Linked DNA regions of Homo sapiens. The protein of the gene in region 1 purifies or fractionates together with the protein of each later gene. This does not show direct contact. Each region holds a gene or a part of one and is shown on either strand. Other genes may lie near its edges.

Region 1 (3,654 bases):
AAAAATGTGGAGGTTGCAGTGAGTCGAGAATGTGCCACTGCACTCCAGCCTGGGTGACAGAGCAAGACTCAGTCTCAAAAAAAAAAAAAAAAAAAAAATCAAATAATGTTCTTGGTTGAATGAAGCCATTTATATGACATAGTTATTTTTGTGTCATTTTTAGAGGATGCATACTTCCCTATTGAAACTTTTTGTTTTAAATGAGAGGGGAATCAAAATAAAATATTCTGGAGAACCTTGAAGGGGAAAAGAGAGCATAAAACATATTTCAAAGGAAAGCATAACTTAGAGTGAGAATAGAGAGCAGGATTAAGTGTATGAGCCTGGCCAGGCCTGGTGGCTCACGCCTGTAATTCTAGCACTTTGGGGGAGGCTGAGGCCAGAGAATTGCTTCAGGCCAGGATTTCAGGACACCAGCCTGAGCAAATGAGACCCTGTTTTTAACAAAAAAAAAAAAAAAAAGCCTTAGTCATTTATATGACCTCCTTAGAATTATAGAAAGTTAGCTGGAAGAAAAATTTGTCTAACAGATGTAAAGATAGAAGTATACATAGATTATGACTTGTCCTAGGTTACCTAATCAGTGAGGGACAGAACTAGAACTGAGATCCAGACCACCGTCCCCACTCCAGTGGATGCATCCTGGAACCAGGAATGGGGAAGGTGGAGCCACTAGCAAATACAGCCCTCATTTGGGCCAGTGGTATGAATTTGCTGATATAGTATTTGATTTCACATCTCTAACAAGTTTTATTAAGATTGCTATGGTTTCTTAATTTTGATAATATTTGATATCTCATTTTTCTCAGACCTATAAATTATAAAGCAAAATTAGAACCATTTTAGCAGTTCATTCAAATCATTAACAGCCTGCATATGTATATAGATAGCAACATTTTCATTTGAAACCACAGATTTGCAAATTACTTCCTGTTTCATTTATCCACCCCAGTGCTACCAGGTGTTCTGTTCAGAAGTCCAAAAGGGTAGAGGAAAGATGACTAATATTGAGCAATGGTCTTAGTATTTTGGCTTTTCAACTACTTTCTATTCGTCATTCTCACATTTGGATTTGGTTTACAGTTGTCAAGGGTACACTCTCAGCGCTGATCAGTGGAATTTGTGAGAGCAGAATTCTCAACCTTGACACTGTTGACAGTTTTGGCCAGGATAATTTTTTGTCATAGGGAGCTATTCTGGGCGTTGTAGAGCGTTTAGCAACATCCTCTACCAGCTAGATGTCAGTAGCATCCTCCACAATAGCATCCCCCAGATCAGAGCAACCAAAGGTATCTCCAGATACTGCCAGAAGTCTCTGGATGGTGGGGAGGGGTGTGTCAGAATTGTCCCGTACTGAGAACCACAGATTTTTTCAGTATTGTTGTCTTGCAAATTTCTGATGAAAGATCATTTAGTTGACCATTGCGTAATGTTGTCTCATTCTCATTTATGCACTGAGCTGGGGGTCCTTCTGCTTGGAAGACTTTTTTTTTTTTTTGGAGACAGGGACTTGCTGTGTTGCCCAGGCTGGAGTGCAGTGGCGCAATCATGGCTCACTACAACCTTGACCTCCCAGGCTCAAGCGATCCTGCTGCCTCAACCTCCCCAGCAGCTGGGATCACAGGCTTTTCCTTTTGACATTTTGAGGGGGAAGTTCTCACTGTGTTGCTCAAACTGGTCTCAAGACTCTTGAGCTCAGGCCAGGTGCAGAGGCTCACACCTGTAATCTCATTACTTTGGGAGGCTGAGGCAGGTGGATCGCTTGCAGTCGGGAGTTGTAGACCAGCCTGACCAACATGGTGAAACCCTGTCTCTACTAAAAATACAAAATTAGTCGGGTGTGGTGGTGCATGCCTGTAATCCCAGCTACCTGGGAGGCTGAGGCAGGAGAATCGCTTGAACGTGGGAGGCGGAGGTTGCAGTGAGCCAAGATCGCGCCATTGCACTCCAGCCTGGGCAACAAGAGCGAAACTCTGTCTCAAAAAAGAAAAATCAACCTTGAGCTCAAGGGATCCTCCCCACTTGGCCTACCAGAGTGCCAGGATTATAGGCTTGAGCTGCCAGAAGGCAAATTTGATTCTGGAAGAGAAAGAGGATTTATGAAATCTCTGTTTTCAACTGTTCTTTCTCACAAACACACACAAACAGTCCTCATTATTCTTAGATTCCATATTTCCAAATTCACCTACTCACTAAAATTTATTTGTAACCCCTAAATTCATACTCACTTTGCTTTTGCAATCATTGGTGCACATACAGAGAGCTGACAAATTTGAGTACCTTGATGTTTCCAGCTGAGGTTGATCGAGGCAGAGCTCTGCCTTCTTGTTTCATCTCTTACGTTATAAACAAGTATCTTTTTTGCAGCCAGTTTAGTGCCATGTGTGATTTCACTGTTTAAAATGATCCCAAGCATAGCACTAAAGTGCTGGCTGGTATTCCCAAGCTAAAGAAGGCTGTGATATGTCTTAAAAAGAAGATATATACATTGGATAAGCTTTAGTCAGGCATGAGTTATAGTGCTCTTGGTCTTGAATTTAGTGTAAATGAATTAAGAGTAAGTTTAAATTAGATGTCTTTAAACAGAAACACACATAAAACAAGGTCATATATTGATCAGTTGATGAAAGTGTCGTCACCAGATGCTGTTAGAAACATAACCTTGCATTTCCCTAAGAGCAGCAGTTCAGTACTCAAAGCAACTTTATGAAATCTAACTACTGCAAATAAAGGGAATCAACTGTTTGTGTGTATATATATGAAAAGAGAATTGGCCGGGCGCAGTGGCTCACACCTGTAGTCCCAGCACTTTGGGAGGCTGGGAGGCTGAGGCAGGCGGATCACTTGAGGTCAGGAGTTCGAGACCAGCGTAACCAACATAGTGAAACCCTGTCTCTACTAAAAATACAAAATTAGCTGGGCGTAGTGGCACATGCCTATAATCCCAGCTACTTGGGAGGCGGAGGCAGGAGAATCGCTTGAACCTGGGAGGCAGAGGTTGCATTGAGCTGAGATCGTGCCACTGCACTCCAGCCTGGGCAACAGAGCGAGACTCCATCTCAAGAAAAAGAGAATTAATGGATACAGCAGGCAGGATTCTGGAAGAAGCAGGACTGGATTTTATCAGCAGCACTATGGAGGGATTAGCTTTTAAACAAAAGGAAGCCCTTCTCCTGAGACTGCGACTACTGATGATTCCTTTCTTCAGATTCCATTCTCTCCTGACTTTCTTCGTTCTACTTTTATCTTAGTAGGTACTTCTACTTGGAACTCTGCTTTTACCCTAATTTCTTCTTTTAACAAAATTTTTTGTACCCTCAGGTTAAATCCTGTACATGATATACTCTCTAAGAAACTTTACCTTCATGGCATTAATAGTCATCTTTTTATAGACAATTTTATGATTTGTTTTTAATCCTTACCTTAGAAAAATACTATACTACAATTTGAGTGCCTACTCCATGCCACACATTTTAACTATATTATCTTTCATTCTTGAAAATTATCCCACAGGGTAATTATTGTTTGTTCTAATTTTTGGATAAGGAAAGTTGAAGGCCCAAGAAGTTGAGACTAGTCCAACCTCATAAGTAGCAGAGAAAGGATTTTTTTTTTTTTTGAGATGGAGTCTTGCTCTGTTGCCCAGGCTGCAGT
Region 2 (3,654 bases), on another chromosome or scaffold:
ACCTGGTGGGGCCTCACTTGGGCCTGGAGACAGGGAATGGTGGAGGGGTTATCAACCTCAATGCCTTTGACCCCACACTCCCGAAGACGATGACGCAGTTCCTAGAGCAGGGAGAGGCCACCCTCTCAGTGGCAAGAAGGTAAGTAAGTGGGCAGCATCGCCCTGAAGCAGCTGCCCTGGTCCCCCTGCACCCTCCCCGCTCTGGGAAACAGCACCAGCAGGTAGCTCTTTTGCAAGGGAGCAGAGTAACCCCACCTTTCCTTTTCTCCCGTTCTCTTAAAAGATCCTTAGAAATCTTACATAATAACATCTTCAGTTTTCAGAGGAGAAAACTGAGAGCTAGGGGAGGTGATTAACAATTTGAAGGCCATACATGTGGTGCTGGAACCAGGACTCTATACTTCATCACACTGCCTCCTCTGGGAATGAAGTCCTGGACTGACTGACGGGTCTGGGCCCGGGGGTCCTAAAAGGCATCTTATGCAGCTGGGGGAGTGATATAGACTCCCAGCTCCTACAAGGAGAGAGGACTGCAAGGAGGTTTTCTATAAGACACTTGGTTCCTGGGTTTGGACTAGATTAGGTGAGAGTGTCCCTGAAGCCTGGACCCCTATAGAATCTGGTCTAAGGAGCTGATGAACAATAAATTAAAAATACTTTAAGATGTCATTTTCATCTATTAAAATGGAAAAAAATACAAATGTTTCACAGCTCACAGTATTAACAGTATGTTCCCATATTGCCATATTCTGCAAAGACTGGAAATCTCCATGCCCCTCATTAGGGACTTGGGTATATCTCTATAGAGCAGTAATATGCAGCCACAAGAAATAAAGAGGACACTCTCTATGTATTGTTACATATTGTTAAGCAGAGATCTCCAAAATCAGTTGTTTTTTTAAAAGATGTAAATAGTATGCTATCATTTGCATACAAAAGGGTGGGAGAAGAATATCCATAGAGTAGCTGCGAAGAGCCAGGGGAACGGGGTAACCGGAAGGGGAAAGGGAAACCTTTCCATGTATTCCAGTTTGTATCTTTTACATGGACATGAGTTACCTAAGGGGGAGAGGAAATCAACACTGGATAAATAAAAGCCCTGCTCTGATAGCAAAGGACAATAGTCAGTGATTTTCACACTGACTCTGATGGTTGATAGAGCTAGGAAATAGATTTCAAAAAGCAAAACCTGTAGCTGCTGCAGGATCTGCCCAGCCTGCCCGGGATTGCCCACCTGTTCCCAGCCAGACCCTCTCACCTGCTCTGGTCTCTACAGAGCCCTGGCTGCCCAGTTGCCAGTCCTACCACGGTCGGAGGTAACCTTCCTGGCTCCAGTCACACGACCAGATAAGGTGGTGTGTGTGGGCATGAATTATGTGGACCACTGCAAAGAACAGAACGTGCCCGTGCCCAAGGAGCCCATCATCTTCAGCAAGTTTGCCAGCTCCATCGTGGGGCCCTATGATGAGGTGGTCCTCCCACCACAGAGCCAGGTCAGTGTCTCCCCACTGCCCTCCCTAGTCACTGGGCCCATCACAAGGGCATTCTGAGCTCAGTATTGAGCCTACTGGAGCCACCTCTCGCTCAATAGCGCATTCAGCAGAAACTCTACAGGATTGTACACACAGTAGTAACACTGGCCTTGGAAAAAAAAAGTTAATGTACGTGTTTTCCTGGTTACAAAAGCAATGCACCTTCACTGTAGATAATAAAATAGAGATAAACATTAAAAAATTATGTCACCCATAATCCCACTGCCCATGGCTCGGAATATTAATGTTTTTCTGTCTACCTTCCCAGTGTTTCTCCGCTCCTGTATATGTTTATACTGTACATATACTTACCTTTTACTTAAGACTCCATCAGGAGCATTTTTTCATGCCATTAAGTATTCGCCCTGACACCACGGAGTTTGTTATGTAGATTAGTTTATTCCTGAGTACCTTACTGCTGGATACTGTTTCTAGTTTTTGGCTTCTATAAATAAATGTTGCAGTAAACATCCTTATGTGGAAAAGGCTTTGCATGTCCATTAATACATTATTATTTCCTTTGAATAAACCCTTTGGAATTTAAATATGTCAGCGTATAGGCAGTATTTCAAAATTTTTGAAAAATTCTGCCAATTGGCCTTTTAAAAAATTGTAAAAGCAACTTACACATCCACCAGTAGTGTATATACCCTTTCTAACACTGGTTACTTTTTCTCTCAGATTTTTATTTTAGAAATGTCTTGAAAATTATAGAAAAGCTGGGAAAATAATACAGTGAACACTCAGATAACTTTTCCACCTGGTTTCATTGTAAACATTTGGCCATATATCCTTTTTCTCCCTTGTCTTCTCCCTGCCCTCCACATGGCAAACACACATTTTTTTTTTTTTTTTTTTTTTTTGCAGGGTATGGGGTGGAGGGGACCTTTTAAAACACATTGGAAATATTAAGACAATTTAGTCATAAAAACGTAAATAGGCATCTTCTAAGAATAAGGACAATGGCTTGCATGACCATCCCACCATTATCACAACCAAAAAAATTAACTTGAATAATATTTAATATGAAATCCAATTGCCCCAATTCCCAATCGGAAGTACTGCTGACTTCCCCAAAGATAACTTCTAATTTGGTTACTTCGTTTGTTGCTCCATGATCAACCAAGGCCACACACTGTATTCAGTTATATCTCTTTAGTGGTTTCAATCTAGGACAGGGTTCCATAGACTTTTTCTTAAAGGGCTGTATTAGTCTGTTTTCATGCTGCTGATAAAGACATATCCGAGACTGAGCAATTTACAAAAAAAAGAGGTTTAATTGGACTTACAGTTCCACGTGGCTAGGGAAGCCTCACAATCATGGCAGAAGGCAAGGAGGAGCAAGTCACATCTTAGGTGGATAGCAGCAGGCAGAAAAGAGCTTGTGCAGAGAAACTCCCATTTTTAAAACTATCAGATCTCATGAGACCCATTCACTATCATGAGAACAGCACGGGAAAGACCTGCCCCCATGATTCAGTCATCTCCCACCGGGTCCGTCCCATAGCACGTTAGAATTATGGGAGCTACAAGTTGAGATTTGGGTGGGGACACAGAGCTAAACCATATCAAGGGCCAATTAGTAAATATTAGGCTTTGCGTGTCATATGTTCTGTTTTGCAACAATTCAACTCTGCTGTTATAGTGTGAAAACCACGATACAGAAATGAATGATGGGTTTCCAATCAAAGTTGATTATAGCAGATGTTGAGCTGGCCATAGTTTGCCAACTCCTGCTCTCAAACAATACCCCCTGCCCTTTCCTTGAAGAATCCAGTTGTCTCATAGCATGTTTCACATTCTGGGTTTGTCTGGTTGTTTCTTCATGATTAGTGTCAGGGTAAGCATTTTTATCAAGAGATCTACAAAGCAGATGTTATACATTTTCCATCGTATCCCACTGGGAGGCTCATGTCAGTGGTCCCAGAATTTGACCACTTGGTTTAGCTGACATTCACTAGGTCCCTCCATTGTGAAGATGCATTTCTATTTTTGTAATAAGCAATCCATGGGTGGTAGTTTGAGATCACATAACTATCTTATTGCCCCATAGCATCTCATCCAGGGATCCTGTGGTCATCCTGACTGAATCTATTATTGCACTGGGGGTTAGAGAACAATG
Region 3 (3,654 bases), on another chromosome or scaffold:
CTTGGTAAGTGACAGAGGCTCCCAGTGGGCCTTTAGTAATACTTGGGGCTGACATAAGCACAATGAACACTCCTAGCCTTAGGCTTGAGGTAGGAGCCCAGATCAAATGTAGAGGCTGGGAGAGACGGAAGCCCTCGAGACAACAACGTTCCTGAGCATAATCTGGGCACCAAAAGTGGAATGCGAGTCCTTTTGACCAGTAAAATTCATCCCCACCCCTCACCCCAGACAAATGAGAGAGGGAGTAATTCTAAGATGTAGAGAAACAGTTGGGAAAAAACTTTACAGAGGAGGTGGTATTGGAAGTGAGCCTTGTAGGTTTAGGAGGGATAAGGGCAGACTTTCACAATTTGTTTTTCCTTGTTTTTTTGTTTGTTTGTTTTGTTTTCTAAAGCCACACCAGGAGCAAGCGAGTATCAGAGGCAGAGCTTCTGAGCTTGCCTCAAAGGCAACACTATAAAATATGGTCCTTATTTTGAAGAACATCTCAGTCAAAGAGGGTCAAAACAGTGATTTTGCAGCGTGGTCACTTTCATTCCTGCAGCGCCTTTCCTCTAAGAACAGGCTCATGGGTAGGGGCTCCAGCTCAGATTTCTGGGAATTATTTGATTTGTCCACTCTGTTCCCAGGTGTGCACATCAGCATTAACCAGCTTCCCAGAGCTAGGTGGCTGGCTCTTTGACCCAGGGCCCAAGGCTGTCAGCAGTGGGAGTTGGTCTCTTTATTAAGTTCCATCTGAAATGCTAAGACCAATGATGGAATCACAGGCTGGTTTATTTTCTTGTCATTATTCTTGGCTTTAATTTCTTCCTGGGCCTGATCGACAGGTAGTATTGGTGAGGGAATTTCTTTTTCCTTTTTTCTGACAGCTCATAAATGTCTAGAACCGACAACATGGATTACACGGGCTTGCATTCCCTCAGTCTCCAGTCTTAAAATGTTTGTCCTGCGCATGTTCAGTCGCACAGTGAAGTGTTGATCCCTCCTTATTATGAGCTGCTTGGGCTCCAGTCCCAGTTGGTTTAGTCTGGTGCTATTAAAAATCTTGATGTGTTTAGCATATGACACTGATTCGGTGGAAACCAATACAGTAGTAATATCCTCACAATGCATTGTAATTTATAGTGCTCCCAGGGGATGACAGCCTTGGAATGCCTAACAGGGGAGAACTTATGAAAGCAGAGGTCACGTGGACTAGCCACCACCATAACCAGGCCAGAGAATAGCCGCAGCTCCTCACTCCCAGCCCCCCGTGCCACTTCTCTACTCCTCCACACAGAGCAAATAAAACAGCTATAGCTGCTGCGGCTGTAAAAACAAACAAATAAAACCCAGGCCTCTTTGTTGTGCTTGGATATGAAACTGAAATTAAAAACAAGTCCAGGTTTCTTCATTTGTAGCACCATGTGCCCTGATATCCCTTATTAACCTGTCACTTCTCCTAGTGGCAGGTGGGGAATAGACCATGGCTTCCAAACTCCTCTTTCTTAAAAGCAGAAATGGAGAAGACTGTTCACAGGAGAACACTGTTTGGCTAAAGTTGACCTAATAATGATATTAATAGCGTGACTCTTACTGGGCACCATGCTAAGTGCTCTACGTGAATTACCTCATTTACTCGTCCTCGTTAAAGCCCTATGAGGTAGATACTCTTGTCTCCATTTTACATTTGGAAAAAATGGAAGCTCAAAGAGGTTAAGCACCTTGTTGAGAATTATGTAGCTAGTTTCTAAGCCAGGATTTAAGCCTAGTTCTGTCCAATTAAGAGCCCATGCTTTAGTCCTCAACAACATAGTGCTGGGAGTTGAGAACACTTAAATCCAACTTTCTTTTCTTCTTACTGTTTTTCTTTCCCCAGAAAGGCCTGAGTGTGGACTGATGGGCAGACAGGAGGACCTCACTTGAGCCACTGGGCCCAGCTCTAGAACAGCAGATCTTTTTCTTACTCTTCTTCCTATCCACCACTGCTGCCCTGGCAAAATACTCTCCATTATTAATTTTTAAGTATAAATAATCCCAGGGGTTGAGCTGGCTTTTGCTTGTGCATTCTATGAAGTAAAGTAGGGACATGGTTTTTGTGGCAATAAATAGGAATAGTTTCCATTTTTCTAGCTAAGTATACAAATTTGATAATTAGCCAAACCAGTTTTCTGTTAGAAAAATTCAAAGTAATTTACAGAGGAAGAATTGCCAATAGGTGTGCGTCAGTCTGGGACAGAGTTCCTCCCGTCGGTGTTAATAAGCATGTTAGTGTCCTGTTTTTTTCCTACCCTCTCAGTGCTATTCATTCCCACCCCCCACAATGATTGCTGCATGTATTCATAGAGGAAAAAACTGAAGGCCCCACAACAATGATCGGAACATCAAACCAGCCTGAGAAGAACACAGCATGTCCAAGGGGGCTGAGGCTGAAGGGCAGGCCATCCCCCAGCGATTACATTCGGATTACCGACTTAATCTGCTTTGGTATTTGACCGCCAGCCTAACCACCCCAGGCTGCATTTGGAGGATATTGAGCACTTTCATCCCCAAGCACTTCACTGGCTTTATAAATGACCCACTCGATTCCCTTCGGCCTCCTCTGGGATGGGACATGGCAGCTGTTTAATTGCCACATAGCAATGTTGCAGTGTTTTAAGGCAGAAAAGAAGAATCCTGCATCCAGTTGAAGCTGCAGGGAACATTTAGGGAAGGGGAATGTAATTATCCACATTGGAAGTGGGCCAGGGTTTGGAGCTTTGGGGAAAGAGGCCTTTAGGACTTCTACTTTCCAGCCCACCTGAAAGATGGGGCCTCCTTTCAGCAGTCTGGGACATCAGCCTGCTTCCTGCTGATTTAGGAAAAAGCCCCCAGGCGCCACCTCCTTTATATATTCCCCATCAGACTCTTCACCGGGGTGGAAAGTCTCTTTTCCAAGGTCTGGCTGGGGCTCAGCTGGGAAGATATGACAGCGTCCCGGGAAGCTGCCTCACACCAGTTTGGGTTTAACATATAATCAAATCAGAGTGACAGCAGATGGAAACAGTCTTCTGTTGCCGCAGGAGCCGTCCTTGAGTTCAGAAACAAAGACGGGGGCAAGAAAGACAAGACAAAGTGTGCATTTGTACATGTGTGTTCACACCCATGCACTTGTGCATAGGAAAAATAAGAAGGACTTCCCCAAAATCTTTTATTGGGTCTTATCTCTAGAGGGAATGGGAAAGGAGACTTTCTTCTACATTCTAACAAAGAATTTAATTCTCAAGGTGTTTAAACAAAAAATAAAGGTGAAGCAGCCAGAGGTGTCAAGTTCCCTGAGTGGTTTTTAAGGTCAGAAGTAAGGAAATCAGCAGCTGACTTTCTTCCTTCTTTGAGTACTTCTTGGGAAGTTTTCTGTGTAAAACTCAAAATTTTTTGGAGTAAAAGTGCACAGAAAACCCTGGGGTGGTTGTCGTCCCTCCAGGCCACCTTGGTGCATTATTATGCATTAGGACACCCATTTTAGCAAGGCCCATGACTTACAGGGGCACCTCACTTATCCAGCCCTAGGTCGTGAGGTAGTCCTCATAATTTACTTTTTCAGATAATCAAAGCTTACCCTTTAAAGGCCAAATATAAAAAATAAATTGAGCTACTTAAAAAAAAACAGAAACCTTTCAAAATATTACATGTGCT

What was found.
Region 2: the proteins of HMCES (region 1) and FAHD2A purify together in Homo sapiens (affinity purification with mass spectrometry; one large-scale study listed by BioGRID and IntAct). This does not show direct contact.
Region 3: the proteins of HMCES (region 1) and DPCD fractionate together in Homo sapiens (co-fractionation; one large-scale study listed by BioGRID). This does not show direct contact.

The regions. Positions count from the first base shown.
Region 1 is NC_000003.12:129,281,851-129,285,504, forward strand, and holds part of HMCES (abasic site processing protein HMCES), read left to right. Parts: intron 1-3,654.
Region 2 is NC_000002.12:95,405,665-95,409,318, forward strand, and holds part of FAHD2A (oxaloacetate tautomerase FAHD2A, mitochondrial), read left to right. Parts: coding exon 1-139; intron 140-1,276; coding exon 1,277-1,493; intron 1,494-3,654. UniProt on the Homo sapiens protein: Tautomerase that converts enol-oxaloacetate, a strong inhibitor of succinate dehydrogenase, to the physiological keto form of oxaloacetate. It is thereby required to maximize aerobic respiration efficiency by preventing succinate dehydrogenase inhibition.
Region 3 is NC_000010.11:101,594,735-101,598,388, forward strand, and holds part of DPCD (protein DPCD), read left to right. Parts: coding exon 1-4; intron 5-1,858; coding exon of another isoform or gene 1,859-1,905; exon of another isoform or gene 1,906-3,280; intron 3,281-3,654. UniProt on the Homo sapiens protein: May play a role in the formation or function of ciliated cells.